Homo sapiens: one gene and its partners. The protein of the gene in region 4 interacts with the protein of the main gene of each other region in a biochemical or structural test. Each region holds a gene or a part of one and is shown on either strand. Other genes may lie near its edges. The genes, in order: CDC42BPA, MYLK, CIT and MYL12A.

What was found.
Region 1: of the proteins of MYL12A (region 4) and CDC42BPA, one has a biochemical effect on the other in vitro, tested with the Homo sapiens proteins (one study listed by IntAct).
Region 2: of the proteins of MYL12A (region 4) and MYLK, one has a biochemical effect on the other in vitro, tested with the Homo sapiens proteins (one study listed by IntAct).
Region 3: of the proteins of MYL12A (region 4) and CIT, one has a biochemical effect on the other in vitro, tested with the Homo sapiens proteins (one study listed by IntAct).

Annotation. Positions count from the first base shown.
Region 1 is NC_000001.11:227,315,475-227,322,515, reverse strand, and holds the start of CDC42BPA (serine/threonine-protein kinase MRCK alpha), read left to right. Parts: upstream 1-4,023; 5' UTR 4,024-5,333; coding exon 5,334-5,511; intron 5,512-7,041. UniProt on the Homo sapiens protein: Serine/threonine-protein kinase which is an important downstream effector of CDC42 and plays a role in the regulation of cytoskeleton reorganization and cell migration. Regulates actin cytoskeletal reorganization via phosphorylation of PPP1R12C and MYL9/MLC2.
Region 2 is NC_000003.12:123,881,317-123,888,288, forward strand, and holds the start of MYLK (myosin light chain kinase, smooth muscle), read right to left. Parts: upstream 3,017-6,972; 5' UTR 2,890-3,016; intron 1-2,889. UniProt on the Homo sapiens protein: Calcium/calmodulin-dependent myosin light chain kinase implicated in smooth muscle contraction via phosphorylation of myosin light chains (MLC). Also regulates actin-myosin interaction through a non-kinase activity.
Region 3 is NC_000012.12:119,867,300-119,874,324, reverse strand, and holds part of CIT (citron Rho-interacting kinase), read left to right. Parts: intron 1-5,123; coding exon 5,124-5,265; intron 5,266-7,025. UniProt on the Homo sapiens protein: Plays a role in cytokinesis. Required for KIF14 localization to the central spindle and midbody. Putative RHO/RAC effector that binds to the GTP-bound forms of RHO and RAC1. It probably binds p21 with a tighter specificity in vivo.
Region 4 is NC_000018.10:3,243,392-3,250,801, forward strand, and holds the start of MYL12A (myosin regulatory light chain 12A), read left to right. Parts: upstream 1-4,409; 5' UTR 4,410-4,518; intron 4,519-5,969; exon of another isoform or gene 5,970-6,052; intron 6,053-6,170; exon of another isoform or gene 6,171-7,410. UniProt on the Homo sapiens protein: Myosin regulatory subunit that plays an important role in regulation of both smooth muscle and nonmuscle cell contractile activity via its phosphorylation. Implicated in cytokinesis, receptor capping, and cell locomotion.

The DNA of each region.
Region 1 (7,041 bases), on a different chromosome or scaffold from region 4:
ACTGGGTTACCTGACTTGCCCTGCATTTCCTCAGCTCTTCCACCATCCATGGAACCATGTGTCAGAATTAAGGTTTCTCTGGTTTTGGTCGGGCACAGTGGCTCACGCCTGTAATCCCAGCATTTGAGGCGGGAGGATCATTTGAGGTCAGGAGTTCAAGACCAGCCTGGCCAACATAGCCCTGTCACTACTAAAAATACAAGAAAATTAGCCAGATGTGGGCCAGGCGCGGTGGCTCACACCTGTAATCCCAGCACTTTGGGAGGCTGAGGCGGGCAGATCACAAGGTCAGGAGATCGAGACCATCCTGGCTAACACAGTGAAACCGCGTCTCTACTAAAAATACAAAAACTTAGCCAGGTGTGGTAGGGGGTGCCTGCAGTCCCAGCTACTTGGGAGGCTGCAGCAGGAGAATGGTGTGAACCCGGGAAGCAGAGCTTGCAGTGAGCTGAGATTGTGCCACTGCATTCCAGCCTGGGCAACAGAGCAAGACTTGTCTCAAAAAAAAAAAAAAAAAGAAAAGAAAATTAGCTGGATGTGATGGCATGTGCCTGTAGTCCCAGCTATTTGGGAGGCTGAGGCAGGAGAATCGCTTGAATCAGGGAGATGGAGGTTACAGTGAGCATGTGATCACGCCACTGCACTCCAGCCTGGGAGACAGAGTGAGACTTTGTCTCAAAAAAAAAGCTTTCTCTGGTTTAAATAAATAGGTGATTTCTGCTTTTTTGGTTGAACTCTGATATAATCATGTGCGTAGTTCTTTCTTTTGCCCTCATATCAACTTCTAATGCCCAAATATGTGAATTAACAACACATCCCACTTCTTCCTTGTTACAATAGGAAGGAAAAGTTGAGTTTATAGAACCTGCAGATTTTTTAGACCTCACTTGCTTTGTGATTAAAGCCATGGGCACTGGCATGAGACAGGCCTGGTGTTGACTTGTAGCTCCTGTGTCAATTACTAGTTGTGTGATCTTTCACAAGTTAAGATCTCTAAGCCTCAGCTTCTTCCATCGTCTGTGATATAGAGGTAATTTCCCTACTTCATATGGTTATGATGATTGAATAAAACATGAGCTCAAACTACCCAGGACAGTGTTTACAGGTTGTTAAGTGTTCTGTAAAGGAAGCAATTATTAATCAGAAAGTTTCTTTTTTATATACAAGCCCTTGCAGTTGATCTCACTCATGTCAGGAGCCTGACATGAAGACAGGACAGGCATTTGCTGGCATTTTATCCTGGGAGGGTACTAAGCCAAGTCATTCATTTGCAGGGTCAGGATGTGGCTAGGCTAAAAGGAGATGTGGTAAAACATCCTCAGTGTTGCTATACATTAAGCCCTACTGTGGCACGCACCTTGTTTTTGGCTCCGTTCTCCAGCAATGACCCTATAGTTATTCTGAAGTTAGATATACCAAGGTGAGAGTGAGGCTGACTGTTATAAATATTAATTGGTGGATTAATTCTCCTGCTTTTAGCCCTGAATTGGAGGATTAGTTGAAGAGAGCTTGTATTGGGGACTAGGCTTAATGATTTCTGTCCTGCCTTCTTCTTTCCACCTTCCTACCTTCTTGTCTTCTCCTGTCCTCTTTCTTTTCTGAATGGTCAGATTAATTCCCAGCATCTTCATAAAACATTCTCTGATTATTTCAAACAAATTGGGTGTTTGCAGTGGTATACATCTAATCTCCAGGCCCCCAAGCAGAATTTCACAAAGAAGACCTCCTCCAGACTATTTTTCCCCAAAGAATACCCTGCGAGGCAGCCTGTGGCACTCTTGTTTTGCAGGAACACTTCAAGCACTGTACAGCTGCTGGGCTGTGCCTTTCTTTGGCTTAAGACCGGTTTCATTAACAAGCATGTTCACACTTCAACCGGAACATTTAAAATAACACCCGCACAATGTGTTTAGTGTCTAGTTAATTATTAAGTCTCTGAGCTTGAATTATTCAAGCAAAATTGATTGGGTTCAAGCTCCTTCCTTCTCTTTGTGTGTGTGTTTTTTAAAATAAAAATAAATTCTGCTCTCTACTTTCTAAATAATGTGGAAAGGGTTATTTAGCAACCATCAATACCCTGGACTGTGGGTGGTACCCAAGCGCTAATAGAATAGGTAAAGAACTGACAGCTTGACTCTTTTGTTAAAAAAAAAAAAAGTATCTACATCTCATATACTTCCATTGTCAATTAGCATTTAGTGAGACCTAACATGTTTTAGGTTCTCCTTTAAACTTCTTTCTAGTTATTTGTAAGTTGGAAAAGCAGGTATCTTGGAGCCATTTCTTTAGTTAACCGTACTTGAAAAAGCAGAAGAAATTGCTTCCTTCTTTGCTACCGCATCTTATGGTCAAATGAAACTGTTAAAATTGGCTTCACCATTAAAATCCATGTTGTTGAAGAATGTTTGTTGAACTGAAAAAATGTCCATAATATATTGCTAATTGCAAGCAAGAGGCTATAAAACTCTTTTATTATGTATCATTTTTGTTAAAGTGCATAGGAAAAAGACTTGAATAATAAACACCAAAATATTGCTTATTATCTGTGTTAGGATTAAACTTTTCTACTACTTTTAGAATTAGACAACACACACCCATATAAAGATGTCATGGCTGGAAATGACTGACCTTTTGTTTGAATCTAAGTATCATTCATGTCAAGACCGCATTGAAAATAATGCTGTTCTTAAGCCAGGCAAGTGTAGACGTTGTAGATTTCATAAAAGATTCACACTATTTCATGAATCACAACTTGAATCGACTTCTGTTAGCCTTCATTTTACGTCTAGGCCCTCATTTCTAATTCTTCCTCAGCTTCCATATTATCAAGATGTAAGATGCAATTGTGGACATGAACATAGAAACACAACCGCCTCACAGGTGTGGGGAAGGAATATAAAATAATTGTATTTTAGAGAACGACCATAAAGGAGATGGCAATTTTGAGAGAAAGTAACAGAACTGCAATGACCTAGTTTTGTGGTGTTAATTTAAATGTGGCATCTTCCATGAGAATTTTATAAAGGGAGCTCTCCTAAAACCGAGATTCACAAAAACCTGGAAGGGCCCTACAGGGATCAGGTGCCCTAGCTATTCAGCGATTTGCCTTTGCTTCCCTAATTCCTGCATTGTGCCACTGGGTTACAAGTGTGTGTGCGCATGCACACAGGGGTGTAGGTTTGATGACAGTGGTGAACTGCCTTGACTGCCTTCACAGGCTGAATCCCCCGCAGGCAGTAACCATGGCTAGGGAAAAACAGGCAGCCGCGAGGACAGTTCCGGAGGAGACAACACCAGGCTCCCGTAGGGAAACTTTTGGGAATGGAGATGGGGGATTCCATCCTTTGCGTGCAGACCCAAGACTTCGATGGTAGCTCGGACAAGTCTGTCATTGTTTTTGTCCTGGGAAATGACACACGAAGTGCTGTAATTAGACACCTAAGAAACGATTACTCTGGAGTGTGCGCGAACCGAATCTGGGGGGCCGGTGGGGAGCAGGTAAGGGGCTGAAAGGCACCGTCTCCTCCAGCTCTGTCGGAAGCCTAAAGCCCTCTGCTTCTGGGCGCCCTTAACAAACGCGCCAGACAGGTGATGTCTCCGAGGACGAGCAGGAGCCCCCCTTCGCGATCTGCACCAGAAGCCTCGGGGAGCCGGGGCCACGGCGCGGCGGTGGCGCAGTTCCCAGCCTGCGCCCAGTCCCGCCGCAGCTCCCGGCGCGGCCCGGTCATCCCGCCTCCATATGCTCCGCCACCGCCGCCCGGGCCTCCCTCAGCCCTCCCGCAGCTCCGCATTCCACGCTGCGGCAGCCGCAGCCTCGCCGCCTAGGCAGTCCACACCCCTCCCCTCGGGCTGGCGCAGCCACTCGGGCCCCGAGCCCGCGCCCCCTTGGGGGCCTCCGCTGGGCGCGCCGGCCGGACCCCGCCCGGCTTGGCCGCCGGCTGGGGCTGAGGCTCGGGCAGGGCGGGGGCGGGGAGTGGAGGGCGTGTGCGCGCGCGTGTGCCGGGGCCGGGGGGCCAGGCCGCCATATTGGATCCAGACTCGTCCGCAAGCCTCCGCCTCTGTGCGGCGGGACTGGAGGAGCCTCGCTGAGCCCAGGGCGCGAGCGCGAGAGGAGAGGGAAGGCGGGGGAGGGCTGGAAGGGAGAGGAAGGGAGTGGTTGGGAGCCGGGCTGCCGCAGCCTCTAGTCTCCTCAGCCGCGGAAGCGACCCCTCCTCCTGCGCCGGGCCGCCTCCCTCCTCGCTGTGGAAAGATGCCCTTAGCCCAGGGGTGTGAAGAAGGGGGAGAAGTAGCTGCCAGAGCCGCCCGCGCCGCCGCCGCAGCTGCTGCTGCTTGTGTCCTTTGAATTCAGAGAAGCACCCCCCCGCCTGGGGCGTCGGGAGCCTCCGGCGCGGCGGCCCGGTGCGGGTGTCGGGGAGACCGGGCTCTCTGCCCGGCGCGGCGCGGCGCGGCTCGGCCCACGAGCGACCACCGACATGGAGTGGGCTCGGGCGGCCAAGTAGCCGCTTCTCCGGAGCCCGGTGCCAGTGCCGCCCGCAGCCCGCCTTCCACCCCCGGCCGCGCCGCCGGTCAGGCCCTAGGGTGAAGCCGGGAGGAAAATGAAGAGTTTTCACCGGAATCCGTTGAAAATAGGACTGACTGCAAAGCCTTAAAGAAAGAAGGACCTCGGGAGGAGAAACGAAAAGCCGCCTCCGGGCAAGACTTGGCGTGCTCCGAGCCGAGGGGCTGCTTCAGGGACCTCGCCCCCTCCCTTTCCCGCTGGAGAAATTGCCGCTGATGCATTATCCAAGTGGTGGTTGGGAGGATTTGCAGCAACATTTTTGGTTTTCCCTCCCCCTTCTATGCATTCTGTTTTTTTCCTCCCTTTTCTGTTTTTCTTCTTCCCGGGAAGTGAATTGCTGATGCAAATCGGACTTTATTCATTAATGATGCAACCGGATTCGTTTCAGGATTACGTTGCACGAGTTGAATTTTGAATGAAGGAGAAGAGTTTTTTTTTTTTTTTTTAAAGAAGTGTTGACTCTCTAGTTCGTTGTACTTTTAATTATTATTTTATTTAAATATACGACTTAATTGTATTCTTTTAAAAATGCATTAAGTATATATTTTATGGTAATTTACCCTCAAAATATATGTATATGGGTGAAATTGAAGACGCTTCAGTTAAGTGAGGTTACTGGTGTGTTGGATGTTTAATTCAGCACCAGCATTGCATGACAGTTGTTTGAATAACAAGTGGTTTATTTTTAAAACCATACCTTTTAAAATTTAGGTTCAGATAATAGTAAAAGTCATCATAATAATTTAAAGGAAAACCAGCAGAAATCGAAGCAAACATGTCTGGAGAAGTGCGTTTGAGGCAGTTGGAGCAGTTTATTTTGGACGGGCCCGCTCAGACCAATGGGCAGTGCTTCAGTGTGGAGACATTACTGGATATACTCATCTGCCTTTATGATGAATGCAATAATTCTCCATTGAGAAGAGAGAAGAACATTCTCGAATACCTAGAATGGGGTAAGTTTGTAATTTTTAAAGAAACTGTTAATCTTTAGCTGGTCATTATGATTTAATTGGTATAGAGAGTTATGAGTAAACTCTACTCCGTTCAAAGAAAAAATACAATAAAAAAACAGACACTAGTTATTCAAGATTTTCCGCTAGTTTTTGGTAAATATTTTCCCAGGAGTAGAATTGTGCTGCTCAATTGTTGCCTTGATTTAAGGCCTAGCTAATGTGGAACTTGGCTATGAAGAACTTATGTTTTTAGGTCAACAGTAAGAGATTTTAAATCAATTCTGTGATGGGCAAAAGTGGATTATTGGTTACAGTTGCCTAATACATGGCACTATAATAGTCCTTCATTTGAAAGGTATTTATTGGTGGAAACATTCAGACTATGGAAATTATTCTCAAAATAGGAGGAGATATTAAAATATCTGTGTTTGCCTTAGGTCAACAGAAAGCTGAAGGTGGTGATCAGTGGGTTTTATTTCATCTCTACATAGTACAAGGAAAGGAAACTGCTAAACATGGACTTTCCAAAAATTATGTTTGTAAGATTAAATGACATAGTTTAAAAATCTTGTGATAGTAGTTAGAGAATGTTTGGGGGCAGCTTCCACTTGAGAGTTAGATTTTACTCGAAAGTTAATTTAAATCTAAACTGGTTAGGTTTTTGGCTTCATTCTTCTAAATATAGATGTGATTTAGAAGACCTACTGTAGTGGAATAGATCAATGATGTGAGCAAACGCTCCATGACCTTCAAGCTTGAAGGCTTGGCTCAAGTTCTTCAGCGTCTGCTGTTACATACAGGGCACATTCTAAGGTCCAGAAGTTCACTGTTGCAATAAGCACGCATCGTCACCCAGATCTGTCTGTAGTAGTGGTACGTTGGCTTTTGAAGGATTTTGGCCAAATATGATTTTGTACCTTTGGAATACTAATCATTTTAGTTTGTTCTTATGCTAAGTTCTTATGCTAAAATATCTGTTCCCAAGTAAAACTTTATTTTCCTGAAGTAAAAGTCAAGTGCTGATTGTGTCTTTTTTTTTTTTTTTTTTTGGATTTGAAATTTATTCAAAGTTAGTTTCTCAGGTAAACCACTGATACAAGAATGTCTACACGTAATAACTTTAATTATTCAATTTGCCAGTATAAGAAGGTTTCTAGCAATGTGATGTCATAAGGTTTAAAAAAATATGTAAATGTGAATAGAATAACTTTTCAAAACAGACTGCCAGACTCATCCTGGGAATGTAAGAAATCTAAACCATCTTTCAAGTAACTTCTCACTTAAGAGTGAGACAATTTTGGCTTTGGTACTGGTTTTGTGAGTATACGTCTTTTATTTGTTGAATAAAGTATTTTGTAAAGCATATGTAGTTTTACATCCCATGTTTCACAAATTGAGAAATTCTGTAGTGTTAATTTTTTTTTTTAAGACTTAAAGGGTTTTGGTACTTTTAGAGTTGGAACTTGAGTTCTTAAGTTATGGTTCCTTAATGACACTCTAGTCTGTGATTTTTGTCATTTAGTATTCTTT
Region 2 (6,972 bases), on a different chromosome or scaffold from region 4:
AATGGCCCTGCCTCATGTCCTCTGCATGCACCCTCTGCTGGCCAAGTTGAGCGAGGACATTGTCTTTTGTTGGGAAAGGATACTTTTTAAGTGTTGTTTCTAAATTTTACTACATTTGCTGAAAAGACAGGACAGGAAGCTTTTAAGAATGAACAATCTCCCAGCCTGTGTGGGTTGGTTTGAGCTGTGAGAGGTGCAGCTGGGCTTCCAAGTAGGCTTATATTTCCAGACTCCCAAGTATTGTTCTCAGAAAGATACTAAATAAGACACCCCATACTCATGGGACACTGTACCCATGTCCCCAAGCAAGGCTGCATTCTGAAACCCCCACCCCACCTTATGAACTTCCTAAAAGACAGACAAGCCAACTAGTTGTGTTTCAAACTCTAGGCTCATCTTATATTTTGAGGATAAAAGCAAGGGGTCATTCTCAAAGACACTGAGTATATGGTGACCCCAGCGCATTCACAATCTATGCCTCTGAGACCAGCAAAGATCTCCCTAGCCAGAGACCCAGAACCTTTCCCCACCCTTGGAACTCAAAGGCCTCTCCCCTCTGCACCATCTGGGTCACCTCCTTCTCTGACAAGCCTTCTCAGCAGATTACCCCCGCCACCTGCCAGCCAGGAGCCCCTCCTCTGCAGTGACTGTAGCTGTCTGTCTACCATTTTCAGGCAGCAGGTGGGGCCACCTGGCCTTACCAGTTAGCCTAGGAATGTTCCAAGGCCTAGTCTGCTCTGCATATGTTTTCTAAGATCTGGCCCCTGGGGAAGCAGCCCCTGATGAAGGGGTGAGCAAACCTCACACAAACAGCAACTACTCTGGCTGGGTGCAGTGGCTCATGCCTGTAACCCAGCACTTTGGGAGGCAGAGGTGGGCGATCACTTGAGCCCATTAGACTAGTATGGACAACATGGTAGGACCCCATCTCTACAAAAAATCCAAAAAACTAGCCAGGTGTGGTGGCACACACCTGTAGTCCCTGCTACTCAGGAGGCTGAGGTGGAGGATTCCTTGAGCCTGGTAGGTCAAGGTTGCAGTGAGCTGAGATCACGCCACTGTACTCCAGCCTGGGCAACAGAGCCAGACCCTGTCTCAAAATAAAAAATAAAAATAAAAATAAGACAAGGAAACATCTACAATGCTGCAGCTACCCTCCTCCTCAGCTAGCCAGTTATTACACAAAAGAAACTGAACATGGGAGATAAACCAGCATAAATGCTTCCCCACTGTGGGGTGGTTCTCCAAGCTCATGCTTAGCTGCAAATGAGGTCCAGCATCCTTTGTATCATCAGTGAACAATGAGACAGACCTGCACATCTTGGCAAAAAAAGCTCTTGTGCATGTCCCCAGAGTACCCGCTACCCAATCCAGCATCCAGAGTCCAACCACTCCGGACCCAGGACCAACTGCTCAGGTTCCTCCCAGACCCAAGGCTCCTGGCCCACTGAGAGTGGGAGAAAAAGGGGTAACCTCACTCTGGGCAGGAAGGAAAATTCCATGCTGCCCTAGAGCACTGTGGTGCCAGCAGCATCATCCTCCACAGTCCCACAGTGTGCAGGCGGGGAAGAGACTAAGAGAATCACGGAAGAGAGAAGGAGGTCAAGAATTTAAGAGAAAAGAAAACAGTTCTATTAGAACCCTAAATGCCTTGTAGGAACCTAGTAAAGTCACCAGATGCACCTACACTTCTCCCAGAGACTTGCATTGTTGATTCCTGATTCTTTGAAGTGTGGGCGGGGTTCCCCAAATGGTCCTCCTAAGCCCACCATCTGGAAATAATTTATTGATAAGTGCATTTTGACAAAAAGTATTCCATTCAGGTGGAGAAGAACACAGCCTCTCTTGGAAGGGGGATGCAGCTCCAGGGCAGGCTCTCAAAGGCTGTGGGGTGGGCGGGTCATTGCATATACTCTGGTCTTTGCACTTGGGGAGAGGAGGGATGGTAAAAACCAACGGCCTGAGGTCTGGCATCATGCCCACTGCCCAGGTGTTTCCCTACACCCACCCAGCTCCCTGAATCACAACAGCTAATTTTACTCCCTCTAGACTCTAGTAGAGCTGGGTCTTCTCCTTCTGGCTACGAAATAGAAAGTGCCCCGCACCCCAACACACACACCCCAATCTAAAAAAAATATATATCCTTGAAACCATTTCCCCATCAGCCCATCTTCACATCTGCAATGCCACTCCTAGAAATTCAGTCCTTTGGGTCTTGAAGGGTTTTAGTTCCATAAGTTCCAGGGAGGGGTCTACCTCAACCATTGACAACTCACATCTCCTGAGAAGTTTATCCAAAACTTTCCAACTGCAATCATCGGCGAACAAGGTCCCTCAACAATGGGACCCCAGTTAACGCGAAGGAGGCAGAGCGAGGTAAGGAGCTTAAATGAGGAGTATGGAGTAGGAACAAGTCTGCAAAGCCCGCGCCCCAGCTTCGCCTGGGATGGCCAGGTCTGGCACTCGCGGGCCGCCTTCCCCGCCCTACCTTCCCGGAATCACATTTGGGCTGGAAGGACCTTCACGTGGCACCCCCTTCCCAGAGGCCGTCACCGAGTCCTCTAGCGAGGGTCTGGGAGCTGGGAGAAGGGTCCGCTTCTCCTCCGCCCCTCAAATCAAAGGCACCCCCTTCGGATGATTCCTAGAAAGGCAATCGCATCAGTGTCCCCAAGCACTTCATCTCCCCAAAAGAAAACTCGTGCAGCCTGGCGTCACTGGGGTCGTCTCCTTACGCCCCTGACTCCTCGCCGCACCCCGGGGCCCCTCTCCATTAGGGGAGTCGGGAGGCACAGACGGTGGGGGTCCCAGCCCCCACCCAGAACTCCCACCCTCGGAGCCTTGACTTCCAGGGCCCGCGCCTGGACAAAAGCATGGGGCGGGCTCACTCACCCGCGCGGCGAAGGCGGCCCGGGAGCCGGGGCACCGGCGCTCGGCGGGGCGCCCCGGCCGCAGGCGCACAGCGCGGGCTCCGAGCTCGCTCAGCGCCCTGCTGCCGACCGGGCGGCGCGGGGAGCCCGCGAGGCGCGTCCGGGACTGGGCAGGGCGGGGCGGGGCGGGGCGGGGCGGGGGTGAGCGAACCGGCGAGAGAGAGAGCAAGTGGGAGAGCGGAGAGCGGACGCGCGCTGAGGAGAGCGAGTGAGAGCGCGGCGCTACGGGGTCAGGACTCAAACCACCCGCTCCAGCCCCCATGCACTGATTTGCATGACATTTGCATAGCGCTCGGGGAGTGGACCTGCTGCCCTTCCCGCCACGCCCACCCGCCTTCTGCCTCGGAGTCCGGAGCGGAGAATCCGCAGCCAAACCTAGCGCCAGACCCGGGCCCCCCTCGCACTTATCCTGCACCGCCCCAGTTAACTCCTCGCAGGCGGCGGTCAGCGGGCTGGTACTGTCTTGGTGCGTGTCTTAGTCCTACACTGGGAGACCTAGGCCTTAGGTCGGGGTCTGATGCTAGCTTCGTGAGCGTGCATGAGACACTGGCTGCCTCTGGGCCTCAGTTTTCTAATCTGTAAAATGAAGATGTCAGCGGAACCATGGGGCTAAAGTTTTAGTGCTGGAAGGTTGTCTATGTAGTTTTTTTCAGACATCCTCCAGTGGTGCAACTCAGCCCCATGGTTCCTCTGACATCCTCCCTTTGTGTGTGTTAAGAATCTCTCATTGGTTTGGAAGATACCTACAAAGTTCTTTAAATTAAAAAAGGGGAAAGGGGAGGGGGGGGAGGGGAGGGGGAGGAGGTGTTTCTGGTTTTGGCTTGCTTTATATTTAGTTTGCACCCAATATGAAATATTTTATAGCTTCTGATCTCTTCACTTGGACCTTCTTTTGTTTTTTTTAAAAAAACTGTTTACTGCAGGTTAAGGAGTGTTTTTAAAAATTTTTTAATTGTAAAATAAAACATAAATACAGAAAACCACAAAAAACAAATATATAGATATATAGACTAGTGAATTATTATAAAGGGAACATCCTTGTAATCACCACCTGGATCAAGAAATAGAACTCTGCCAGCCACCCCAGGAGCCTCTCCATGTGCCCTACCTCAATGACAACCCCCTTTCTCCCTCCTCCCAAAAGTAACCACTAACCTGACTTTCATGTAGTCACTTCTGCTGCTTTTGTTTTTCTTGGTATCTTCCAAGGGTGCACCTTACCCCTCCCCCCACTCTTTTTTTTTTTAATTTGATTTGCCTTTTCAGTCTTTTCCTTACAATTATTTGTTAAATAACTTAAGCCCTTGATCTGTGAGGTTTTCCAGAGTCTGGGGGTTGCACATTCATGAGGCAATTCAGCATGTTTCTCTGTCCTCTGTATTGACAGCAAGTTGGCAGCTGATCCAGGGTCTTCCTCAGACTGAAGTTTGATGTCTTTTGTAAGATTATAGATGGTTGTGTGTTCTTTTCTTCAAGAGGTACATGATCATGATGTCTGGTGTTTGCTCTTTTTTGAGGTTAACAGCCGTCGATGCTCAATTCCTAGATTCATTAATTAATTGAAGTTTGCAAAATCATGGTATTCTAATAATTTTGTTTTCATTTATTAGTTCATAAGTGGATAAGGAGATGCTTCCTCTCATCTACTATTTGATTACCCTGAGATAGGAAAGGCACGATGAATACCTGCTTTTTTTTAAAAAAATTACCCAGTTTTCAAGTTAAGGAATTGATTCTCTGTCATTCTTAGATTTCTTTAATATCATTATAAATTCATGAATTTAAATATATTTGATAGGTTTCCATCTACGATATTAGAGCTCAAATTGTCCCATCTTTGGCCAGTAGGAGCTTCTTCAATATGGCTCCTGGCTCCTTTTGATAAGATTCTAGTAGTCTTTTTTTTTTTCTCTCTCTCTCTCTCTCACTAGTGTGCAAAGAGCTTCAAAGACCCTAGAAGTCTTTGATAGCTTCCTTGCTATCTGATATGACAAGATGTTCCAGGCACATCTGTACATTTGCTGCCTCAAACCTGGAATCAGCCATTTCTCCAAGAAGCTCTAGTTTTTTTGTTTTTTCTTTCCTTCCTTCCTTCTCTCTCTCTTTTTCTTTCTTTTTTTCTTTCTTTCTTTCCTTCTTTCCTTCTTTCCTTCTTTCTTTCTTTCTTTTCTTTCAGATGGAGTCTCACTCTGTCACCAGGCTAGAGTGCAGTGGCACGATCTCGGCTCACTGCAACCTCCACATCCCTGGTTCAAGGGATTCTCCTGCCTCAGCCTCCTGAATAGGTGGGATTATAGGCACGTGCCACCACACCCAGCTAATTTTTGTATTTTTAGTAGAGACGGGGTTTCATCATGTTGGCCAGGATAGTCTCAATCTCTTGACCTCGTGATCTGCCCACCTCGGCCTCCCAAAGTGCTGGGATTACAGGCATGAGCCACCCCGCCTGGCCAGAAGCTCTAGTTTCTTTTGTTGAAATTTTAAGATAACAATATGAGCACTAGGAGTATTCATTGTTACTAGGTTGGTAACTGTTTCTAGGCCTTTTCAATAGACAGAGCTACTAAAGAATACTTCATTTTTTTATATTCTAGAGAAATATTATTCTTCATAATATTTTCATCAGTTTATATTATTTCCAATTTAATTTCAGGACTGTAGTTTTTACTTAACATATATTACATTAGGACCTCTTTTCTTTCATGTAGAGAATTCTGGTTCTCAAGGACAAAAGGGAGGATGAAATTAGAATATCCCAATTTACTAATTTGCTTTAGTTTGCATTAAACATATAATAATAATCTCAGAATAACAATATTAATACTACCATCATCAGTTTTGATTCTTGAAAACAGTTTTTTTTGCATATGCTATCCATCTTTTATAGTTATACTCTATCTAAATTATCAGCTTCTATAGCCATCTATACCATAATCTTCCTATTTAACCCTAATTTAGTCTTAATTTTACAGTTCTACAATTCTAATCCTAATTAAAGTTCAAATATATATTTAATGCTTACCATTAGTTCCTTATGTTTATGTATCTTTAGTCATTTTGGTTGTCTGAAAGCTTGTCCTCTACTAGATTCCTTAGGAAGGGCTCATGGAAAGAATATGCTCTGAGTTCTTGCATGTTGCTTACAGTTTGTTCATGCCATTTTACTTGAAGGTCAATTTTGTTGGATTCAAACTACTTGGTGTCTTGGTCCAGCTGGGTTGCTATAACAACAACAACAAAAAAAAAAAACACAAAATAAGTGGCTTATAAACAAGAAACATTATTTCTTATAGTTCTGGGGGCTGGGAAGTCCAAGATCAAGGCTCCAACAGATTCAGTATCTGTTGAGAGCCCTCTTTCTGGTTTGTAGACGGCACCTTCTCACTTTGCCTAGATGCCCAAATAACTTTATCTTTTTCTTTCAAATCCAGTAATTTTATTAGAATGTTTGTTGGTCATTCTAGTTTGAAAGTAAACAGTGTGTATTTCTTTCAAAATGTGGTTTCAAATACATATATTTTGTTAATTTCAGGAAAATTTTCTTCAATTAAAGTCTTAAATATTTGTTCTGTTTTGGATTGCTTTAGACTGCTTCTCTGGAGACTTCTATTATCTGCATATTGAACCTTTTTTGTCTATCTTCAACATTTGTCACTTTCCCTTAAATCTTTTTAATTTCTTTCTTCATTTGTTTTTAAGTTTATAAATTTCCCTCCTTTTTACCTTATTTTCTTTTAAGTTTTTATTAGTTATATTTATGTGTTCTTGTGTTCCTTATAGGTCAATCTTTATTTCTCAAATGCTTTTTAAAATGTTTAATTCCAAAAAAAAATAAAAAATAAAACGTTTAATTCTTCTGTGAGTTCTGTTCTAATTTCTGAGTTTCTCTAATTCTGATGTATGTTGTTCTTTCATGTTTCATGTCACTCAGTGTGTATTAGCTTTTCTAGGACATTATAGCTTTAATTTTTTTGAGAATATCTTTCTGGAGGTTATTATGATCTTTATTCACTTTGTTGTAGTAGCTATATGAGAGTTGACCTTA
Region 3 (7,025 bases), on a different chromosome or scaffold from region 4:
TGAGGCGGGCGGATTACTTGAGGTCACGGGTTCGAGACCAGCCTGGACAACGTGGTGAAACCCTGTCTCTACTAAAAATATAGAAAATTAGCTGGGCATGGTGGTCGCATGTACCTGTAATCCCAGCTACTTGAAAAGCTGAAGCAGGAGAATCATTTGAACCCGGGAGGCGGAGGTTGTCGTGAGCCGAGATGGTGCACTGCACTCCAGCCTGGGCGACAGAGTGGGTAAGACTCCATCTCAAAACAAAACAAAACAAAAGAAAACAAAAAAAATAACATAGAGGTTGTAGTACCTAATCCACAGGGTTGTTGTGAGGATTAGATGAGATATTCGATTTAAAGCACTTAGCACCTTGCCTGGCTCTTAGTAAACTCCTTATAAAAAATGGTAATTATTGTTAATACTCAGCATAGAATAGTATTAGTTATAATATTAATACTAAATTTGTTTCCTTAATAGTAATTATATTTGGGAAGGTAGTTATGTAGGATACCTGTAAGATGATGAATGATGAAGTATTCTTGATAACTTTTTTTTTTTTCCAAAATATTGGTATTGGGTGTTTAAACAGATGAGAGTGGAAACAAATTGAAAGCTTAGGTTTTTCTGTGGGACCATCCCCATCAGCATTTTAAGTCTTGACATATCTTTCACAAATGAATAGTCTGTCTTTAACCTTAGATGGCTGGAGTGCTGCCACGTTTCAGCCCCTTTATCATGCTACTTTAAAATATCTCCAACTTGCTGGGCGTGGTGGCTCACGCCTGTAATCCTAGCAATTTGGGAGGCTGAGGTGGGTGGATTGCTTGAGGTCAGGAGTTCGAGAGCAGCCCGGGCAACATGGTGAGCCCCTCCGTTTCTACTAAAAACACAAAAAATAGCTGACTGTGATGGTGTGTGCCTGTAGTCCCAGCTACTCGGGAGGCTGAGGCAGGAGGATCACTTGAGCCCTAGAGGCAGAGGTTGCAGTGAGCTAAGATTGTGCCACTGCACTTCAGCACTTCAGCCTAGGCGACAGAGCAAGACCCTGTAAATTAAAAAAAAAAAAAAAAAGAAAAGGAAAAAAATTTCCAACTTATTAAGGGCTTATAGTGTGCTGATTATGTAATAGTTATGGCTTCCAATGTGTCTGGCATAGAACTGGCATGTTTCTGAGTATCTCACTTCAGCCTCATGACAGAGGTAAGGACTATTTTTAATTTAAACTTTAAATAGGAGGCAACAGGCCAGGTGTGGTGGCTCACACCTGTAATCCCAGTACTTTGGGAGGCTGAGGCAGGTGGATTGCTTGAGTCCAAGAGTTCAAGACTAGCCTGGGCAAAATGGTGAAACCCCATCTCTACAAAAAATATAAATAATTAGTCAGGCATGGCGGTGTGTGCCTGTAGTCCCAGCTACTCAGGAGGCTGAGGTGGGGGCATCTCTGGGGCCCCGGAGGCAGAGGTTGTAGTGAGTTGAGATTGCAACACTGCACTCCAGCCTGGGCAACAGAACGAGACCCTGTTTCTAAATAAATACATAAATAGGAGGCAACAGATATAGACAGATATGGAGGTAGGTAAGGCCTTGCCCAAGATCATACACGTTGGGTTTTGCAGATGAGGCCAAGATCAGACTCCATCTTTGGTTGGTCTGACTCCAAAGGCTGACCACATAGCCATTGGGCCACAGCACCTGTGCACGTCAGAATTTATTAAGTATATCTTGTATTTAGTCATTATAACAGGAAGACTTATGGGTAAACCCTCAGTTCATCTCTTTTTAATGCTGAGATCCCCCTGCCCAGTAAAGCTATTATTGCAAGTATAGTATATACCTATCATTTGCCTTGAGTTATCAGGTAAGGATGCTGTTTGTTCTTTTCCCATATAGTGCTGTTTGAATGAGGTTGAGATACAGTAGCAATTTTGTTTTCCATTCAGGTGAGTACCTTAGACTGAGTGTCATTTTGTCTTTTTTACTTCTACTCAACAGGATTTCCTGACATGTTCGAGGTCAGTGATTGTCAGACTTTCTGAGCCAGCAAAATTTCCCAAATTGCTGGGTAGACACAGGTTTTCCAACTTTTTATTTTGCCAAGTAAGGATATATAAAAAAAAAATAAAAAGAAAGACCTATTATTTTCTGGCCCTTGTATTTCATAAAGGGCATTTTAAGAAACAACAAGACAGGAAGAACATCATCTCAGAATAAAGGACCATTTTTAAATTTGAATACATTTAGTTTTATAAAAAAGATATCATGTGGTGTTCATTTTTTCTCATTTCACTGCAGGCTGTTGAAAACTTTGTTAAGAACCAGTACTATATTTGGGAACCCCTGCTTTAATTGATCTAAACTCTTGAAGAATAGAAGAAACAAAGCATTTTATTTTTCTGAGTTACTGGCAACTATTACTAAAGTGACAGATATGGTGGCCTTGAATGCAGTGCTTCCCAAACCTGATTGAGGTCTGACTCTCTTGGGGACCAGGGTCTCATTCTGTTGCCCAGGCTGGAGTGTGGCAGCACAATCTTGGCTCACTGCAGCCTTTACTTCTTGGGCTCAAGTGATCCTTCTACCTCAGTCTCACAAGTGGCTAGGACTACAGGACCATGGCACTACACCTGGCTAATTTTTTTTTGTTTGTTTGTAGAGATGGGATCTCGCTGTGTTGCCCTGGCTGGTCTTGAACTCCTGGGCTCAAGTGATCCTCCCACCTTGGCCTCCCAAAGTGCTAGTATTCCAGGTGTGAGCCACCTCTCCCTGCTGGGGAACTTGTTAATAAAACAGATTCTAGGCTACAGTCTGGAAAATTCTAATTCATTTGGTTGTGGGGGAGGGGGGCATAGGACCAGAGAATGTGTTTGTTTGTTTGTTTGTTTTTCTTAAATTCTCCAGTGCTGTTGTGATTCAAATGCAGCCGGTCTGTTTCTGTTATCAAGTGCTGTGTAACAAAGCACTCACAAAGTTTAAAGCAACAATGATTTATTTTTTCTTAGGATTCTGTGGGTTGGCTGGACTCAGCTAGGTAGTTCTGCTTCATCCTGTGATGTCAGCTGGGGTCACTTGTGGGGCTACATTCAGCTGGGATTATGTCTGGGACTGGAACATGTGGGTGCTGACTGCTGGCTGGGGCACCTTAGTGTTTCTCACATGGCCTCTCTTCTCCATGAGGTCTTTCAGTAGTATAGCCCAGGACTCGTAACTTTTTTTTTTTTTTTAAGACAGACTGTCGCCCTGTCGCCCAGGCTGGAGTGCAGTGGCACGATCTCTGCTCACTGCAACCTCCGCCTCCTGGGTTCAAGCAATTCTCCTGCCCCAGCCTCCCGAGTAGCTGGGATTACAGGCACGTGCCTCCACGCCCGGCTAATGTTTGCATTTTTAGTAGAGATGGGGTTTCACCACGTTGGTCAGGCTGGTCTCGAACTTCTGACCTCGCGATCCGCCTGCCTCGGCCTCCCAAAGTGTTGGAATTACAGGTGTGAGCCACTGCACCTGGCTGACTCGTAACTTTTTTTGTAAGTAATAAATATTTTAGGCTTTGTGGGTCCTGTAGTCTCTGTTGCAACCACTCAACTTGGCCATGGTAGCACAAAAGCAGCTAAAGACAATATGTAAATGATGGGTGTAGCTGTGTTCCAGTAAAACTTATAAAAAGTCCGTGGGCTGGATTTGGTCCAAGGGCTACAGATTGCACACCCCTGGTCTAGCCCAAGCATCTGTGCATGGTGGCTGGCTTCCCAAAAGTGGAAGCTGCTAAGCTGCCTTTTTTTTTTTTTTTTTTTTTTTTGAGAGGGAGTCTCACTGTGTTGCCTAGGCTGGAGTGCGGTGGTGTGATCTCGGCTCACTGCAACCTCCATCTCCCGGGTGCAGGCAATTCTCATGCCTCAACCTCCCAGGTAGCTGGGATTACGGGTGCCTACCACCACGCCTGGCTAATTTTTGTATTTTGGTAGAGACAGGGTTTCACCATGTTGGCCAGGCTGGTCTCAAACTCCTGACCTCAAGTGATCCACCCGTCTTGGCCTCCCAAAGTGCTGGGATTACAGATGTGAGCCACCGTGTCTGGCCGCTTGACAAGCTTCTTAAAGGCACTGCCCTGAACTGGCACAGTGTCACTTGTGTCACATTCTTTTGGTTGAAGAGAGTCTCAGAGATGGCACAGATTCAAAGGCAGGAGAAATAGACTCCAGCGCTTAAAGTAAGGAGTAGCATGTGCCTACAGAATTGGAGGAACTGTTGGAGGCCATCTTTGAAGAGAGACCACCACTATCCATGGCTTGGCACGTGGGAATCACTGCTCTATACCAGGGTTGCAGACTCATGTCTTTGGGGGCCAGGCAGTGAGTATAAATGAGTCAAGTGGGCCAGTTGGAAGATGGAGTCAGACCTGCAGTGAACTCCCAAACACATCTGCTACCGGGAGGGGCAGCATTACTCAGCTCCAGCTCAGCGTCATCAGGCAGGAAGGCGAGGCAGTGTTGCCGGATGTGCCAGTGTTTCAAAAGAAGCCAGAGACTCCATTTTTATTTTTTTGTATGGAATCTCCTGATTTTGAAATATTGGCAGATAATTCAAATTATCTTAAACACTACAGGCCAAACAAAACATATCTGTGGGCTAGAGACAGTCTGCCAGTTTGTAACTATTTCTCCAGATCATGAGTAAATTTGGCTTTACGATGGTCACTCAGTTCTTATTACTCTAGGTTGTTCAAATGAATTAAAAAAGCTGAAATTATATGAATAAACCCCTGGGCACACATGAAAGAAGTGAAAAACCCATTGTTTCCTATTGTAGAAACATGGAAGCATGTCAGAGCCAGAGGATCCAGAGGAAATATTCTCACTAGCCTCAGACCCTCAGGAGTGAGGGAGCTTTTCTTGTTAATGGCCACGCTTGTGCAGTTTTCCTTCCCAGGTGCTGGTGAAAGAAACCCACAGTCTTGGAATCATGGAAGTGATACCATAATGACTGTCAGTTGACGTTGCTTTAAAGAATGAAGCCACAGAATTGTGCTGTTAGCATGTCGTGAGCAGTTAGTTGAGTTGGTGGCTTGTAATTTACTCTGTGTGGATGTTATTGATCAAAGCTTTTCATTATTGACAGTGTCTCCATCTGCTGTTTGCTGTTTTTAGGGGAAACCACCCTTTATGACTCAACAGCAGATGTCTCCTCTTTCCCGAGAAGGGATATTAGATGCCCTCTTTGTTCTCTTTGAAGAATGCAGTCAGCCTGCTCTGATGAAGATTAAGCACGTGAGCAACTTTGTCCGGAAGTGTAAGTTTGGGGAACTTTTTCTTGAAAACTGTCCTGAGAGAGAAAAACTAGAAAGATGCTTGAGGCAGAATGAGTTACTGGTTGATAGTAGTCGGTAAGAACTCTGGTTCTATATAAGACAGATCCAGGTTCAAATTCAGGCTGCACCTCTTATAGCTGGGAGACCAGGTAAGTTGGGCTTCTTGGTTGCAAGCGACAAACTTAATTCAAAGACTGAATTTAGGCCAGGTGCAATGGCTCATACCTATAATCTCAGCCCTTTGGGAAGCTGAGGTGGGTGAATCGCTTGAGCCCAGGAGTTCAAGACCAGCTTGGGCAACATGGTGAAACCCCATCTCTACAAAAAATACAAAAATTAGCTGGGTATGGTGGCTTGCACCCGTGGTCCCAGCTGCTGAGGAGGCTGAGGTGGGAGGATCACTGGAGCCCGGGAGGTTGAGGCTCAATGAGCTGTGATTGTGCCATTGCACTCCAGTCTGGGTGACAGAGTGAGACCCTGTGTGAATAAAAGAGTGAATTTATTGGCTCATGAAACTGAGAAATCCAGGAATGAGTTAAGTTTTAGCTTTAGGCATAGCTAGTTCCAGAGACCTCAATAATATCCCGTGGCCCTGTCCTTATACTCACTCAGGGCTGACTTTCTATTAGGCAGAGTAGGCACGGTGCTTAGGATCTGTGATATTTAATTTTAATGAATTTAATTACTTTTAATTAACTGAATTAAATTTTAATTTGTTTTAAAATTATAGGAAAAATGAATATAATAATGTATAATGATTCTGGATTACATTCATCTTTATACTAATGTAGTCATAAAATATAATTTTTGTTTTTTTTGGAGACAGAGTCTTGCCCTATTACCCAGGCTGGATTGCAGTGGTATATCATGGCTCACTGCAGTTTCAACCTTCTAGGCTCAAGCAATCCTTCCACCCCAGTGGCTGGGACTACAGGCTCACACTACCACGCCCAGCTAATTTTTGCTTTTTTCTCTGTAGAGATAGGGTCTTACTATGTTACCCAGGCTGGTTTCAAACTCCAGGCTTGAAGCAGTCTTCCTGCCTCAGCCTCCCAAAGCTTTGGGATTACAGGTGTGAGCCACCATGCCTGGCCCCATAAAATATAATTTTTGAATTCTTTTTTGTTTTTAATGGAGGAAGGGGCTGAGGAAGGCAAAAGTACCTAGGGCCTATGAAGTCATATATTGGCCTTGCCTTCACCCTGTTTCTGACTTTGCTTGACTTCCATGTGATGAGGCAGTTGGCTGTTAGTGTCCCAGTTTCATACTCTTACATTAGTGTTTTTCAACCAGTGGGTGATTTGACGTTTTCGGTTGTCAGAGCTAGTTGGGGGTGGTGGTGTGTGAGTTTGGGGGGAAGGGTCCTACTGTCAGTTAATGGGTGAGGCCAGAGATGCCACCAAACACCTTACAGTGCACAAAGCAGCCCCCATAACACAGAATTATGTAGCCCACAATGCCAACAGTGCTGAATTTGAGAAACCCCACCTTGTACAACATTGCTGTGCAACCAACCACCCTAAATATTACTGACTTAAAACAATAGTCACTGTGGCTGGGCGCGGTGGCTCATGCGTGTAAGCCCAGCGCTTTGGGAGGCTGAGGCGGCGGATCACTTGAGGTCAGGAGTTCCAGACCAGCCTGGCCAACATGGTGAAACCTTGTCTCTACTAAAAATACAAGAATTAGCTGAATGTGGCAGCGGGCGCCTGTAATCCCAGCCATTTGGGAGGCAGAGGCA
Region 4 (7,410 bases):
AAATCATTGACTTAGGTTGTAAATACCAAGGATCCATTCTGCTATGCTTCCTTGCTGTTGTTTGGGTAACGAAATTTTCCTACTTTGGACCAAAGGAGAAAGCACAGTACAGTAAAATAAAATATGGGCTTCGGGCTGGGCCACTTACTAGCTATGTGCACTTGAACAATTGACCAGTTACCATGTATTTACCGGCACCTGTGGATATTAGGCATTGTATTAGGAGTTAGAGATATGTGGATAAATATCCACATATTTACTGTTTTCCTTTCTATTCTACCCCCGGACAATCAGAGACAGGATTTATAACCCAGGTTCTTTCATTACCTTTTGGGAAACCTGTGCAGATCATTCAAGTATTTGAGCTTGTGTCCCAATCAATGAAACGGAGGTAATAATGTCTATCTCACAGGGTTGTTGTAAGAATTATATATTAGAAATGTTTATATAGAATACCTAGCACATAATAGGCACAGATAATAATAACTGTCCATTCCATTTTTTTCTCCCTTTAGATCTCACTTGGGGAAAAAAAACACCACCACCTTACTCTGAGGCAGGAGCAATGGATAGTGACCTTGTAGAAATTATAGTACTCCCGAAATAATTGATTGCTATAAATATTGAGTTTCCAAATGATTAGTGCTGGGTTTTCTCAACCTAAGCACTACTGACTTTTTGGGCTGAATAACGTTCTGTTGTCGAGGGCCGTCCTGTGCATAGTAGGATGTTTCGCAGCGTCCCTGGCTTCTCCCCACTAGATGCAGTATCTGTCCCGTTTGTGAAAAGCAAAACTGTCTCTCCAGACATCGCCAAATGTTCCTTCAGGGCAAAACCCAACCACCACTCCTCCACTATTGAGAACCACTGCAATAGTGGATCATAAGCTCACATTTAGTGGGCCTTGAGAGGTATTCTAAAAATTAAATGACATAGAATTTGCTATGGACTGAATTGTGTGTCCCCTCCCTGCCAAATTCATATGTTGAAGGCCTAACCCCCAGTGTGACTGTATCTGGAGATATAATTAAAATATAATTAAGGTTAAATGAAGTCATAACGGTCGGCCCTAATTCCATTAACACTGAAGGCTCATAAGAGGAAGAGATCCCAGCCATTTGGGAGGCACAGACGGGCAGATCACTTGATGTCAGGAGTTTGAGACCAGCCTGGCCAACATGGTGAAACTCTGTCTCTACTAAAAGTACAAAAAAAGAGGCCAGGTGTGGCGTCTCATGCCTGTAATCCAAGCACTTTGGGAGGCTGAGGCGGGTGGATCACCTGAGGTCAGGAGTTGGCAACCAGCCTGGCCAACATGGTGAAACCGTCTCTACTAAAATACAAAAAAAAAAAAAAAATTAGCCAGGCGTGGTGGCACATGCCTGTAATCCCAGCTACTTGGGAGGCTGAGGCACAAGAATCACCTGAACCTAGGAGGCAGAGGTTGCAGTGAGCTGAGATCGTGCCACTGCACTCCAGCCTGGGCGACAGAGTGAGACTCCATCTCAAAAAAATAAGTAAATAAAAGTAAAAAAATAAAAATACAAAAAAAAAAATTTAAAAAGGAAAAAAAAAAAAGAGGAAGAGAGTGAGATCTCTCTGCCACATGAGAACACAGGGAGAAGGCGACTGACTATCTGCAAGTCAGGATGAGGGCCTTCAATCGAATTGGCCAGCACTTTGATCTTGGACTTCCCGGCCTCCAGAAGTATAAGAAATAAATTTCTGTTGTTTAAGCCGCCCAGTGTGTAGTATTTTGTATGGCAGCTAAAGCAGACTAATAACAGAATTGAAAAGAACAGAATAGAAATCCTTGAAAAACATTATAGGTAGTCAAGTATTTCTTAGTGAAATAAATTTCTTACTATGAGTATTGGTCAAAAGATTGAGGGAGGATGGCTTGAGCCTGGGAGATGGAGGCTGCAGTGAGCTGTGATAGAACACAGCACTCCAGCCTGGGCAATAGAGCAAGACCCTGTTTCACTCTATTTGGAGCAGAATTCAAGTCTCCAAACTTTTAGTAAAAACGTGAGAAGGAGATTATCACATGGAGGCAAAGATCTCCCATAGGGTCCAAAGGATAGAAATATCAGAGTCAGAGGCCTTTGATGGTGGGTCCAGTCATGAAAACTGAGTATCAAAATACTAGGTGGACATTTGAAGAACATTTTATCGAGATGCTATTTTTCCACATTGGTTGACTAACCGTTTTTAAATCCATAGTTGTGGAATGAATAAATGAATGAATGAACACAGACTACACAATTCCTGTTCATCTTCAATCAGCCAGGCCCTCTGATCACCTCCAGACAATCAGGCATGCTGCTCCCTCTGCCTGGCATCTCCCTCTCCTTTTCTTTCCCCACTGAATTAATTCTAGAATTAGCTCTTTAACATCCCCTGGGGGACACCTTCCACTAGTTCCCAGACAAGTTTACGCTTCGTTTGTGCTCCTTCAATAGGCCCTAACTAACTGTACTGCAATTATTATATCTGTTCCACCCTTGTTCCCTGATACTCCGCTAACTCCGCATTTTTTCTATTCCTCCCGCCCCCATCCCCAAGGTAGCAACAACTATGTTCTGCTCCGGAAAGCATAAGCCACAGCCCCCACCACAGTGCTTGGCAATGCGGTTGCTGTTTAATACCTGCTGACTGAGTGGAAGGAAGACAAAACAATTACCTGACTCAAAGAGAAGCAAAAGAATGCTGCCTTCAAGCTGAGGGGAAGACTGAACTGTCCGTTTCTTTCTGCTCTAAAGTGTCCTCTGGAGAGGACGCTGGCGGAGCTGGTGCTCTCGTGGTGGCAGGCCACCACCCTGTGGAGGTGTCCATGCATTGCAAGTGCTCGCAAGCTCCAGGAACAAACGCATCCGCGCAGCCGTCTGGGGTTTGTCCCGTCGCTGCCAGCCCTCTCGCTGAGTCCCCGCCCTCGCCGATAAGAGCCCACTTAGGACCCCCATTACATGGATGGCTTCCCAGGACCTGCCCTTAAAGACTCCGATTTAGTAGGTTGGAAATGACGCAATTATTTTTATTTTTAATTAGTACCCCAAGTCATTCTTTACCATCAAGGAAGTTTGGGAAACAGATCACTTTTGTTTCAATCACCTGTGGAACTGGAGCAGTTATTTTTTTCCCCAGCGACTTTACCACGAAGTTAACTTTGGAATACGTTAGTGGTTAATACACGGAACGTTCCCGAGATCCCTCAAGAAAGAAGCTACGAATACTTAGAAGATACTATTCCGCGGCGTTTACAGCAACACTGTCCGTTCCAGAAGGATTCAAGTGGCGGCCTGCTTTGAAGGCGAAGACCACAGGGCAACCCAAACTTCAGAAGGGTTCTGGCCACGGGAGCCACACTGGTCACTGTCCCCTAGTGCTGGGATGACGGCTCGAGTGTTAGAGGATCCCACTCTCTCCTCTGGTAGGTGAGGTCAGAGAGCTGAGGGGGCCAGAACAAGTCTTCCTTATCGGATTCTGGGCGGAAAAAGATAAAGTCGGGGAGGACTTTCTCTTTTTAATAAGATTCATCGTTACGAATTGTTCTAGGCAAGCAGACCTCAGGAGAAATAGGCCCAAGTTTTGATTCCTGTTTTCACCAAGTCGCAAGTCCTAATCGTAGCAAGAGGTGCGGGGAAGAGTCGCCTTCCTTCCTGCATAGTGGGATCCAAGTCAGGCTGTCCTTGTTAGCCAGGGTCAAAGGGGCTCTGCCAGGGAAAAACGACGGCAAATGTTTTTCAAGAGGAAGTCTCCAGCCACTTGTGACCTGGGAAATCCGTCTGGGCCAAAAAGATAGTGGAGGCTTGGCTGAGGGCCCCAGGGACACACGTTTCCTCCCGTATGGAGGGGGCGGGACTCTTAATAAAATTACACTGCACACAGAGCTAGCATCAAGATCCGCTCCCGGGATACGCGCACTGCTCCGGGGCCCTCAGGCGGAGACCCAGACCCCGCGCGGGGCGTCAAGCGCAGGCGCACTACCGCCCACAAGCTGGAGCCCGGCTTCGGGGCGGGGCGAGGGTCAGTCACGTGGGCCCGCAGCCCTCTCCTCGATTTCCCTACAAGGACTTGGGCCGACGGGCCCCGCCCTTCGCCGTGCCCTGGAATGTGCGGCCAGGCAAAGCCACAGGACGGACGCAACCATCTGCGGAAAGGATAGGGGGGAGGAAGACTTAACACTGCAACAACAGGTACAAAAAAGAAGGAAACTCAGTAACAGGACCCAGAGGACCATTATATATTGCTCTATATTCTAGGTCGCCCACTTTACACTTCCTTCTCATGCACTTGGTCAATACCACGCCCGCTGACCACACTGGCGACTTCCCTCTCTGTCGCCCCTCCGTGAAGTCAGACCCACTCTGCGGGCCAAGAAAGGTGACCGGGCTTCCTTCCGGCTTGCTAAGCAGAGGCCGGAAGCGGTGGTTTTTAGCGGCTCTCTGGGTAGCAGGGTGGTGTGATAGCGGCAGCGAGGGGCTCGGAGAGGTGCTCGGATTCTCGTAGCTGTGCCGGGTGAGTGGCGCTCGCGTTCGGGCGCGTGAGACCCATCCCGGGGACCCGTCTCCGCGGGGGCAGCTGGAGGGCGGCGGGGCTCCTGGCGCCGGTAGCGCACCTGGGCAGGTGTGCCAGCCAGGTCCCCGGTTCTGGGATCCGAGGCCATGGCTTGGAGTGGCCCAGACCCGAACTTCGCTCCTGTGCCCAAACTTGGAACTCTGGAAATGTGGCTTCGCTCACTGGCGCCTTGAGCTTGGGCGACTGCCGGGCCCGCGAAACCCGACCCCTGCAGAGCTGACTCCGGGACTATTTTAGTTTCTAACGTCAACTTGCCCGATTCAAGAGGGTTTGCGCAAAAACGTAGCCCGTTGTCCCCCTGCTGCAGCTGTTGTTGCAGCTGTGTGGCTGCGTTTAGTAGGAATAACCAACTCAAATTGGGAAGTTCTTCAGCTCAGTATCCGCTCCTGTAATTAGAACTTTTTTTCTTTAAGCGATGAAATTTTGGACAGAGAGATCTGGAGTTTAGTTTGTGACTCGAAGAAAAACTCCAAAATGTAATACCTTGTCCCATTTGGGGGGAAAGTTTGGGCTAATTCAATTCGCCATGGAAGTGTCTTCTTTTTAAAGTAGTTTAGTAGGTATATGAATGTATCTGTCAGTTCTTGAGAGACCTATGGATTTAGCAGAGATTTTAACTTAAGTGCAAAAAGTTTCATATTTAAAGGCGAATAAAGCGAATATTTCTTAAAATTATTGGTATTTGTTTCATGTTCTGGAAGGGCTCTAATAAACGGTAATCAGAAAAGCACTCTATTTTCAAAAGCGAGGCTTTACTGGCAAGTCAGCCCTCACAGCTAATTGTCTTTGTCCAGTGGTGAGAACTTTTGGGTGTGGCAGTCCAAGAGAACGAATCCTACCTTCAACCGGAAGTTTGCATAAGAAATGAAACTTGGTTTACTTGGAACGGAAGCACCAACTTGAAATACACTTTTTAAAAATTGTGGTTAGCACCAGAAAATAAGTTATACTTAGGCTTTTTTTTTTTAAGTGCATTGATTAAATGAGGCGGTATATTTGGTCAGGGTTTAGAAAGCCCACCAAATACTAGGTGCTATCACAGTACGCAGTGTTTTGTAAGATGGTGGTTTTTTCTTGCAGAATGTGTGATATTTCTCAGAATATTATCAATTTGAGTGTTCGTTTTGTAGAAGAAGTTTCTAGGTTATTTTACATTTATTGCCACTTTGTAAATAAATGCTGGACTCTAGGATTCTAACCACAGAACTCTAATGTATATATTGGTATGGATTAATCCCATTTTATAAATGAACATAGTTTCTAGAGATTCTGAAAACTTCTTGTGTCCTTTGGTGTGTGGGGAAAGCCACTTTGAGAATCTCTTCTATTTCTCCCACCTATTAATCTAGTCTAACATTTTCCTTAATCATGTTGTGTATCTCTCGTTACAGCCCACAATGATTCTGAGCTAAAACACAAAATAAAAACCAGATTCATTGCCACCAGCGCTCACCTCGCCTGACTTAAAAAAAAGGTTATGCTCCTTTAGATCTGTAAACTCAGTCTCCTAACTGCCCTTCATCCACTTTCTCATGCATCTGAAATCCTCATATTTTGTAGAAGCCTGTTCTGTAAGTCTCTCTACTTTCCAGTTTCGTACAACAGACACTCCTTGACACCAAGGATCTTTCACTTAATCCCTCAAAAATAAAGACTCGAGCTGGGTGCGGTGGCTCACGCCTGTAATTCCAGCACTTTGGGAGGCCGAGGCAGGTGGATCACGAAGTCAGGAGTTCAAGACCAGCCTGCACAAGGTGGTGAAACCCCGTCTCTACTAAAAATACAAAAATTAGCTGGGCATGGTGGTGGGTGCCTGTAATCCCAGCTACTCCAGAGGCTGAGGCAGAGAATTGCTTGAACCCTGGAGGTGGAGGTTGAGATCGCGCCACTGCACTCCACCCTGGGCGACAGAGCAAGACTCCGTCTCAAAAATAAATAAATAAAAATAAATAAGTAAATAAAGACTCGACTTTATGATTGAGGAGCTTCGTAATTTGGAAACCTCAGGTCCTTACCTGGCGATCTTTGCATCCTAAAGAATAATTACATTGACATGAAATCTTTTCAATTTATTTTACCCTAGCTTGCTTTTTGTAAAAAGCAATTTCAGGGGGGAGGGGGGAGGGATAGCATTAGGAGATATACCTAATGTTAAATGACGAGTTAATGGGTGCAGCACACCAACATGGCACATGTATACATATGTAACCTGCACGTTGTGCACATGTACCCTAAAACTTAAAGTATAATAATAAAGCAATTTCAACTTTTTTAGATTAAGGGGTATACCCTAGTTTTCTAAACTTCGATGAGAGTTGTGCATTTGCTGAAGGCTTATTACATGAAGAGTGACAGTCTAAATTGTTTGAAGGAAAGTAAAATGAACAACAAACTAGAATCAGCAAAGAGGACCCTGACAATATCAGAAATGATCTGCTCCTTGAGATCATAGCACTGTTCCTGATTTGACTCCCTCCACCATTATTTATTCTCCCCACACTTTTAGTTTGGTAGGGAAAAAACCCCACAGTTTCTGTATTTTGGAACAGTGACTGTGCAGCCAAACTCCCTATCGCTGAAAGGTTTCTGGTGGAAAATAACTCATAGATCAGAATCCAGCCTCCTTGAAAAAGTAAAGGCCTAGGTAGTAACTTCCTCAACATTACACTGCCAGTTTTTGATAGAATTAACTACCTTAATTTGTTAGAATTGAGACTAACAGCCGAATCTCTTCATTCTAACAATGCTTTGTAGCTTCTAAATGATCCCACACGGGGTTTTTCAAGGTCTTCCTCCTCCCCAATCCCTTAATTACTCAGAAACATCTTTTCT